Linked DNA regions of Homo sapiens: regions 2 and 3 are each reported to be linked to region 1. Evidence: microRNA targets listed by miRTarBase, many of them from high-throughput screens and not tested one by one. Region 1 holds a microRNA gene; each other region holds the end of a gene's coding sequence.

Region 1 (3,257 bases):
GCAAATCCAAACCATTTTCACATTTCAAGACTTAATTCCTATTCCCCCATCTTTCAAACTTGTCTCCTATGTTACTGTGGAAACTGAGGCCATCAGACTTGAATTCTATGAACTCTCTCCTGCCAGATCTACAAATTTATCCCCATGTTCACCCATCCTTCTAACATTCTCTTAGAAGATAAGGTCTCATCTCCTTCTGGCCCAAATCAAATTCTCTACCTGTGTTTTTGGTTCTGTCCTCTCCCATCTCTGCAAGGACCTTGAACCATTAATTTTCCTTTCTGCCTCTTGTATTGTGTTAGATTTGCCAAATATATTGCTCCCATACCCACAATTTCTTATGAGGGGAGGTGATGTTCCCATGATCTCTGCAAAGGAATAGCCATGTTTCGCACTATGCAAACTTCTCTGTACTACATGATTGGACCAAGTGGGCACCTATGTCAAAGGGCATCCAATTTACAGAGTGCCCAGATAATTCAGACATGGTCTGGCATGAAATGAGGAGCACGGCCTGTGACCTTTTTAAATTTTTTCAAAGGCTGCTTAGTGCTCTAAGAACAAGATATCCATTTTAAGTGAAATGAGTGGATTTTTATTATTAGAAAAGTTATGAAATGATCTTTGATGCATGTGTTGCCTGTGAAAGTCATTCACTTTAATGTTCAGTGGGAGTAAGTGTAATCCATGTAATTGCTAGAAAGCTAGGCATCTTAGCACAGGAATAATCACACTGAACATTAGTAATGATAAAAATATCATTTATAGCGGCCTATCATATGGATTTTAAATACATCATCTCTGTCATGATAATCCCATGATATAGGTTCTAATATTACCAATTTTCAGATAAAAAAAAAAAACTAAGGCCCAGAGAACTTGGGTCACTCAATTAATAAGCAGCAGAGCTAATTAGAGTCTGGGTCCAAAGCTTAAGCACTCTTCGTCTTCTTTATATTTGGCTTTTTCCTAGCCAAAAACATGGAGGCATTGCTTACTTTTACTTTATCATTGTTATCTTGGCATAACATCAAAATAATTAGGAGCTGATATACCTAAGTGTATAAAACAGGATAAAATTAATTGATGAGGAATTAGATAAGGAAAATAAAATCAAACTAGGGGCAAATTTCATGTATAAAAATGTGTACTGTGCCATACATTTTGTAAGTGGAGTCTCTAAAGATTGCTTCATAAGGAAGAAGTGAATAATGACTTTGGGAACACTTGGTAACCCCTAGGACTCAAAAGATTGGGTGTGAGAAGTTATTAGTAAGCATATGTATTAGGCAAAATACAGTGAGATGAACCTGGAACAAATGCTCGCTGAATGCACTTAGAAATATTATCAGGCGACTCAGCCTATAGAGCATACGGGTTAGAATGTCTATTTTAAGAAGGAGCGGATATTTACTAAATGCTAATTTGAGCAAAGTTCTACAAAAATATCACTGACCATGAATATTCAGGCATTGACATGCTACAAAATAGCATATCGAAAAGAACATCTGTTGCCCTAAAGATGGTTTCCTGCACAGAACGTCTCCAAATTTTCAGCATTCATAGGCTGGCCCCGTTTCTTCTTGGTTAACATTTAGAGGCACGCCTAAACTTAGAGGAACACCTCTCTAAACCAAGGAGACACTTAAAGAGAAAAGGAGTAAAGATGGTGATGGGCTTATAAAGAGCAATGTAATAGTGTCTTTGAAGCAAAAGCTAACTTAATGAAAACGTGGTCCCAATTTCCTTAAATCTGGATCACCGTACGACTTCTGTAATACTTATTATTTCCCCAGCTGGCAAATAAACTGGAGTTCAAGTGGGAAAAAACAAGGTATTGTTCAGACTTATGATTTTTGGGGTCAAAGATTCTGAGCAATAACCTATTAAAAAACCCAGCTTTTGATTTGAGTATGTAAGTAAGTACATGGGAGGAACGTATGGATCTGGAGTGGTGGTAAATACAGAGCATGTTTGCTTCGCAAAGCAGATTAGCTCATACTTAATAATAGAGTAAATCTGTTGGGCCATGACTCAATGCACCCAAATTCTCTAGATTGCTATGTCTCTACTCGCTAAGCCTTCGGGAACAACAAGCACAGAACTTTTAGGGTGCTGTCTCACTGATGTCGGCGTTAGCTCTGGTAGTCCAGGTCAAGATTATACCAAAGATTCAGGACTTAAATTCCTGCAGAATGTAAGCCCCTTTCCAAGTTCTCTGCTTTACTGTATCCTGTTTATTTTCAAACTCAAATGGAAAAAAACGAAACAAAAACCTTGGGCTTCAAGAGGCATCCTGCCGCAAGGCCCAGCGATGTGAATTTTCAACAACCGTCTCAGGCAGATTTCATGCTGATGGTTCAGGCACTAAACTTTGAAAAACACAGTATCACAGAGTAGGGATGGTGATGTAAGAGTCATCTGTAAAAGCTGTGCTGTTTTGGCAGCCTGGGAGGCTAAGGTTTAGTCTAGGCGACTAAGGTTTAGTCCGGGCTGTATTCACACCCAAAACAACTAAAAAAGCGGAGGAGTCTTTGAGTCAATCCCTGAAGCTCCGGCTAAGAGGAAACTCGCCCACGCTCCAGGGCAGCGACGCCGGCTCCACCTCAGCCACGGCTGTCTCAAGCTTCTCGGGGTTTTCCGCCGGCTCCACCCGAGCCACAAGTCTACAGGACTCCTCGGAGCTTTCCGCCGGGACGCAAGACCCACCGCCAGAGGTTGGTACCTCCTAGAGAACAGCGAAGCGCATCCCGAGGGCCGCCGGCCGGAAGCGCCCTCCAGACCCGCCCCCTGCCCTCCGGAGCCGGAAGCTGGGCATCTGCAGCTGGCTCGGCGCACTCCACTGACCGTCCCGACGATGCTACGCGCGCCCGGCTGCCTCCTCCGGACCTCCGTAGCGCCTGCCGCGGCCCTGGCTGCGGCGCTGCTCTCGTCGCTTGCGCGCTGCTCTCTTCTAGAGCCGAGGGACCCGGTGGCCTCGTCGCTCAGCCCCTATTTCGGCACCAAGACTCGCTACGAGGATGTCAACCCCGTGCTATTGTCGGGCCCCGAGGCTCCGTGGCGGGACCCTGAGCTGCTGGAGGGGACCTGCACCCCGGTGCAGCTGGTCGCCCTCATTCGCCACGGCACCCGCTACCCCACGGTCAAACAGATCCGCAAGCTGAGGCAGCTGCACGGGTTGCTGCAGGCCCGCGGGTCCAGGGATGGCGGGGCTAGTAGTACCGGCAGCCGCGACCTGGGTGCAGCGCTGGCCGACT
Region 2 (3,257 bases), not on the chromosome of region 1:
AAGGCGGAGGCGTGGGGAAAGTTTGTGGGAAGGGCAGCCCTTCTGCGGACACGGTTTAGGGAAGCAGATTCCCCTTACATTCGGCAGAGGGGTTTGAAAAGTTGTTACCTTGTAACTCCCGGTCTTTGCCCTTCTCCAAGTTCTCTCTGCTGGCTGCTCTTGCTGGGGGCGGGTGTGCTCCCTTGCAGCCCGGTACAGGGCCCCCAGGGCCCCAAGGGCATCTCAGGAGTGGACCAAGAGTCTCTGCTCCTTTCTGTCAGGTGCCAGCAACAGCCATCCTGCTCTGCTCTCCTTTCTTGCGAATGGGAGTGCCCGGCCCCGATGCTCGTCTAACTCAGGGTCTGTGCTCTTTGGGGTGTTTTGACTCCAGGCCTGTGCAGGCCTCCAAAGCTCCCGGGTGCCTCCAGGGGACTTTCTACCTGCCAGGAGTGAGCAGCTATGGGATTTCCCCCCAATTTACAAGATACACTTTCTGTGCAGCAGGCAGCCTCCAGCATGACCCCCTAGCGGGTCAGAGTGGGCAGGGCTTCAGGCCGAACTCTCCTCTCCAGCGGAGGTCTCAGCTGCTTTGCTGGGGAACAGAGCAGAGGCTGTGACACCAGCTCTGGGCACGCTGGAGGTGCTGGGTCCTCGTGAGTCCTGTGTGCAGCCGGGTTGGGCTTGGCCGTTGCGTGGGGCTGGGAGCGAGTTTACCAGGCTCTGTCTTCAGACAAATACAAGCCAAGCATTGTGCACCCAGCACCCACAAACCGTGTCACAGCCTGACCCTCGTCCCCAGAGAGGGTGTTCTGCAACTTGTGCCAAAGCCAAGAAGGACCAAGAAACTTTTTTTTAATATAAAAAGATCAATGAAAAATTTATTTATAAATTTTTCACGCTGGGCTACAGGTCAATATCGTACACTCAGGAATGTGCTGCACAAACTTTATCCAGTTAGCAGTGATCACCCCGTGACCCACACACAGCTTCGATATAAGCCTAGAAAGTCTTAACATTAATTAACATAATTAAAAAGGTATTTGCATCTAGAAAAAATATACAGAAGAACTCCTTGTGGAGTAATCTGTGCCTCCATTTCAATGTCTGCTTGTTTCACTGACATTATCAATATATTCTTCTCACACAAAGTTTTATAAAAAGCGACGGAGGGCTGCCCGAATACGACCAGCCACGCACAAAGGGCCTCCACCCACCTGTGTCCTCAAGTGCTCCCCATTTCTGCACGAAGGGTCAGCAGCACTTCCATGAAGGGGAAACCTCATTTAAATTTGAATAATTCAGCCTCCCTTTTATTTCTCAGGATCAAAACAACAAGGGGTGTGGGGCTGCATAGAAAATTGGAGCCACAGAAACCAGGAAGGGCGCCTTTCAGGACAGAAAGTGACGCAGGAGAACCTCCCCGGGCCCAGGTCTCGACGCAACCCCTCCCCCACGGCAGGATTTCGGGTTCGAATTGAGTCCTCGAAGCTCTGGGAGGCTAAAAAGGGGCAAAACGATCCTTCAATTAACTCAGCCATTAGCACAAGAGATTCACAGTCTTATAGGTATTTTATAAAAATATAAATATGGGTACACTCTGTTGCCTTCACAACGCTGGATACATCGCCCTTTAAAATTGGGTTTATAACCAAGATTCAAAAAATACACCTAAAACTTGGCTTAAAATATGTTAATATTTTATATTCTGTCATAAATGTTATGACATTTAATTGTGGCAAATCCATTTACTTTTTTTAAAAAAGTGTGCAACCGTTAACTATGATAGAACGCACTAGAAAAGGTAACGAACCTTCACCCACCCCCCCGTGTCCCCGCCACCCTCGAGCGCCAGCGAGCTTCCAGGATCCTGGGGAAACTGCAAAACAAGCCGGTTTGGGGGATGGTGGCCTCATCCAGGAGGGGCGGGGGAGAGAGGCCCTGGGGCTTCCAAAACTCACGGATTTGAGGGAGAGGGAGAAGGAGGGAGGGGGAACAGAACGGGGTGGGGAGGTAGACGCGGGGAGAAGGGAAGGGGGAGGGACAGCACGGGAACACCATCAGGCTGGGCGGTATTTTCAGTGCAACCAAGAAATGGTAGACTCAAGTTTTTAGTTTTAAGACTAGAAAAAAATGCATCACTCCCCCCCATAACCACATTGACCACGCAGTGTTTTCCAAACAAAAAAACCAGGCGCACAAACTCCACCCACAAATGTACACACACAAGATAAATAGTTTAGAACACCAGCAACAGCGAACAGCCGAGCGTCTCCTCGGCCGCGCGCCAGCGGCGCGGACCTCGGACCTCGGGGCTGCTCCTCGGCTGCAGCCGGCATCGGCGCGTCCCGGGCCTGCGGGCGGGTCCTGAAGGCGGCGGCGGAGCGCTCCGAGTCCGCCTTCGGCTCCCGCCGCCCGCCTTTCACCTTCGGGAGAAAACATTTTGCGCAGAGGATCCGGTATCTCGGGATTCCGAACTTGCTGGTTGCGAGACTCAAATTTCAAAAGGGGCTGGAGCCCGCGCCCCGCCCCCACCCGCGAGGCGGCGGGCAGGCGAGCGGGTGGGGGCCGTGGGAAGCTGCTCCGGCCCGGCCGGGCCCGGCTAGGCCGCAGGGAGGCGCTCGGCCGGCGGGGCTGCCGGACCCTGGGGCCGGGACGCACGCGCCGTATTCGCCGTGGCCACGGGCCTTCTGGCGGGGCCTGCGAGCCGGGCGCGCACCGAGGTAGTTGGCGGGAAGGTACAGCAGAGACGACGCGGGCGCAGGGCCGGGGTCCGGGGTCCCGGCGGGCATCACCGGCCGCTGGCCGCGTACTTCGCCTTGGTGATGAGATAGAGCACGATGTCCTGGTGGCCACCGAACGCGGCGATGTGCAGCGCGCTCCAGCCGTCGCGGTTGGCCAGGCGGATGTCGGCGCCGAACTTGACCAGCAGCTTCACGAGCTCCAGGTTGCCGTCGATGACCGACTGGTGCAGCGCCGTCTGGCCCTCGGGCCCGAACGAGTTCACGTTGAACTCGCAGTTGGTCATGTTCTGCAGCAGCGACTGCAGCTCCTGCGTGTTGCCCTTGCGCACAGCCTCCTGGAAGATGCGCTGCGTCTGCGGCGCGGAGCAGGTGGACAGCTCGGCCTGGCTCATGCTGCCGCCGGGCGCGGGCCGCGGGCCGGGCCGGGGCTCAGCGCGGGCGGCGGCTGCGGCGCGGGCCCCCGGCTGTCTCGGGGCGCGCCTCGGCGCATGGAGGGCGCGGCGTCCCCGGGCCCCGCACGCCGCCTCTGGGCGCTCC
Region 3 (3,257 bases), not on the chromosome of region 1:
TAAAGAACAAGCCTAGTGAATTTAGGAAAAACAACTGTCATCTCCATATCATAGCATCCTTGTTTATAAATTCTAGGAAATGATACTTATCAACTTTTTATTTCACAGTTTTGCTGTGCTGATGACTAATTTTTTGTCTAGTTTCCAAAAATTACTTTGTGAAATAAAATATGCCTGACTATTGATCCAAGTGCTCAGTGATAATCTCATGACCTACGACCATTAGAAACAGTAAAATTATCACTCTTGGGAAACTATTGTAAAGCCCAGGAATTTAAACAAGAAAATTAGTCTTTCTCAGAATGCCTCTTCAAATGTCAGACTCTATTTAATTATAAACCACCTTTCCAGATGTAAAAAATTATTCAAATTTTAAAAGCCTGAAAAATTTAAAGGTTAATACAATTTAAAGACTGTTTGAATTCATTCAAATAAAAGGAAGGTCTTTCTTTAGGCCTTCTAATCTTTTCCTTTGGTATATACTGATTTCTTCTTATGGAAATATTTTATTCTTTCCTATGTTTTTTTATTTACCTTTAGGGACGGCTGGTGACTGGAAGAATTACTTCACCGTGGCCCAAAATGAGAAATTTGATGCTATTTATGAGACAGAAATGTCCAAAACTGCACTTCAATTCCGCACAGAGATTTAAAGTGTCTAAATCACACATCTGAAGAAATAAGAGATTGTCTGTAGTTGATTGAAACGAGGGCAGTTATGAATTGATTTGGGCAATCAAATGAATTTATAAAGGAGAATAATATGCTTTTAATATGTTGATTCTTTTCAATGTTATTAATCAGATCCCAGTTTTGTTCCTTTGATTCTGAGTTTCCAAATTCTCTAAGGCTAAAGTTCATTGTTAACTTTTTGTAACAAAGGAACAATGTAACCACAGGCTCTTCCTGCCTTTTTCTACACTAGTACTGATAAGAAAGAAGGGATTTATTTTACTTAATCTCCCATATATTATGATTTAGAATTAAGTTCCCCTCCCTAGTACCATGGTCCAAGAAATGCTGTTTTCATAATGAGACTATATTTCCTAACTCTGCCCCAATTTCCCTTTGCCGAAAATTTGACCCAGGACACTGTGTTCCACTGCTGTCTACCGAGTTTCAAGTTGTTCTCTGAGTCATAGCTCATCTTCCTGCAGTGCCTCTATTTGGATAACAAAGTTCATGTCCCCGATCATGTAGTTCAGATTTTGGAAATCTTTTTTCTATATCATACCTAATGTCTAAGTCTCCGAAAGGCAAACGCCTACAATAGTCTCTGTAGGATTGGTTACCTGGGAACTGGAGCTCTGTTCTGAAAAGCAGCCCTGAGGGCTGTGACCTACTTCTTATGGGGAGTCCTCTTTTTCCCAACAGACCCGTTTGAACTTCAGAGAAATCACCTACTGCTGTGTTCTGGTCACCATTTGGGAACTTCAGTTACTTAATCTTATATTTGGATAGATTTGGATACCTTAATAGCACCTTTAATATCCTAGACATGATCATAACCTCTGCAAAATATTTCCCAATCTGGTGCCCAAGGAAGACTCTCTAGGCTGAATCTCCACTCTGCCCTCTTGACCCAATGTTCCTTCTACTTATTATTACATGCTTATATCTATTTGTGTGGTCTCTGATCTATGTTTTCTTGGAACATTTATATATATATATATATATATATATATATATATATATATATATATATATGTACATTTTATTATTATACTTTAAGTTCCAGGTTACATGTGCACAATGTGCAGGTTTGTTATATATGCATACATGTGCCATGTTGGTGTGCTGCATCCATTAACTCGTCATTTACATTAGGTATACCTCCTAATGCTATCCTTCCCCCCTCCCTCCACCCCACAACAGGCCCCAGTGTGTGATGTTACCTTTCCTGTGTCCAAGTGTTCTCATCGTTCAATTCCCACCAATGACTAAGAACATGAGGTGTTTGGTTTTTTTGTTCTTGCAATAGTTTGCTGAAAAGTATGGTTTCCAGCTTTATCCATGTCCCTACAAAGGACATGAACTCATCATTTTTTATGGCTGCACAGTATTCTATGGTGTATATGTGCCACATTTTCTTAATCCAGTCTATCATTGATGGACATTTGGGTTGGTTCCAAGTCTTTGCTATTGTGAATAGTGCCGCAATAAATATACGTGTGCATGTGTCTTTATAGCAGCATGATTTATAATCCTTTGGGTATATACCCAGTAATGGGATGGCTGGGTCAAATGGTATTTCTAGTTCTAGATCTCTGAGGAATTGCCACACTGTCTTCCACAATGGTTGAACTAGTTTACACTCCCACCAAAAGTGTAAAAGTGTTCCTATTTCTCCACATCCTTTCCAGCACCTGTTGTTTCCTGACTTTTTAATGATTGCCATTCTAACTGGTGTGAGATGGTATCTCATTGTGGTTTTGATTTGCATTTCCCTGATGGCCAGTGATGATGAGCATTTTTTCATGTGTCTGTTGGCTGCATAAATGTCTTCTTTTGAGAAGTATCTGTTCATATTCTTTGCACACTTGTTGATGGGGTTGTTTTTTTTTTCTTGTAAATTTGTTTGAGTTCTTTGTAGATTCTGGATATTAGCCCTTTGTCAGATGAGTAGATTGCAAAAATTTTCTCCCATTCTGTAGGTTGCCTGTTCACGCTGATGGTAGTTTCTTTTGCTGTGCAGAAGCTCTTTAGTTTAATTAGATCCCATTTGTCAATTTTGGCTTTTGTTGCCATTGCTTTTGGTGTTTTAGACATGAAGTCCTTGCCCATGCCTATGTCCTGAATGATATTGCCTAGGTTTTCTTCTAGGGTTTTTATGGTTTTAGGTCTTACATTTAAGTCTTTAATCCATCTTGAATTAATTTTTGTATAAGGTGTAAGGAAGGGATCCAGGTTCTGCTTTCTACATATGGCTAGCCAGTTTTCCCAGCACCATTTATTAAATAGGGAATCCTTTCCCCATTGCTTGTTTTCGTCAGGTTTGTCAAAGATCAGATAATTGTAGATGTGTAGTATTATTTCTGAGGGCTCTGTTCTGTTCCATTGGTCTATATCTCTGTTTTGGTCCAGTACCATGCTGTTTTGGTTACTGTAGCCTTGTAGTATAGTTTGAAGTCAGGTAGTATGATGCTTCCAGCTTTGCTCTTTTGGCTTAGGATTGACTTGGCAATGCGGGCTCTTTTTTGGTTTCTTATGAACTTTAAAGTAGTTTTTTCCAATTCTGTGAAGAAAGTCATTGGTAG

What was found. Region 1 holds the annotated microRNA hsa-miR-4678 (AAGGUAUUGUUCAGACUUAUGA, at 1,832-1,853, shown strand). A microRNA usually pairs through its seed, bases 2 to 8, with sites in the 3' UTR of a target mRNA and lowers its output. Matches are read on the target gene's strand: a 7mer-m8 pairs with bases 2 to 8, a 7mer-A1 pairs with bases 2 to 7 and ends in A, and an 8mer does both.
Region 2: the mRNA of NRARP is a reported target of hsa-miR-4678. Seed matches in the 3' UTR shown: 8mer at 1,542-1,549 and 7mer-m8 at 1,014-1,020.
Region 3: the mRNA of SULT1B1 is a reported target of hsa-miR-4678. Seed matches in the 3' UTR shown: 7mer-A1 at 1,231-1,237.

What each region holds. Positions count from the first base shown.
Region 1 is chr10:87,502,059-87,505,315 of GRCh38, forward strand. MIR4678 (microRNA 4678) reads left to right here and starts at 1,823; the gene lies at 1,823-1,896. It overlaps MINPP1 (multiple inositol-polyphosphate phosphatase 1), which reads left to right and starts at 2,835. Exons shown (of 5, transcript NM_004897.5): 1 at 2,835-3,257. The coding sequence starts at 2,858. LOC112268064 (a long non-coding RNA gene) reads right to left here and starts at 2,776. Exons shown (of 2, transcript XR_002957094.2): 1 at 2,277-2,776. RefSeq lists enhancers at 2,805-2,894, 3,055-3,114.
Region 2 is chr9:137,298,817-137,302,073 of GRCh38, forward strand. It overlaps NRARP (NOTCH regulated ankyrin repeat protein), which reads right to left. Exons shown (of 1, transcript NM_001004354.3): 1 at 815-3,257. The coding sequence starts at 3,112. The coding sequence ends at 2,768. Among named protein-coding and RNA genes, the nearest start is that of NRARP, 1.8 kb to the right of the region's middle. RefSeq lists enhancers at 61-954, 2,754-3,257 and silencers at 2,313-2,362, 2,483-2,542, 2,613-2,692.
Region 3 is chr4:69,724,484-69,727,740 of GRCh38, reverse strand. It overlaps SULT1B1 (sulfotransferase family 1B member 1), which reads left to right. Exons shown (of 8, transcript NM_014465.4): 8 at 541-3,257. The coding sequence ends at 653. Among named protein-coding and RNA genes, the nearest start is that of SULT1B1, 35 kb to the left of the region's middle.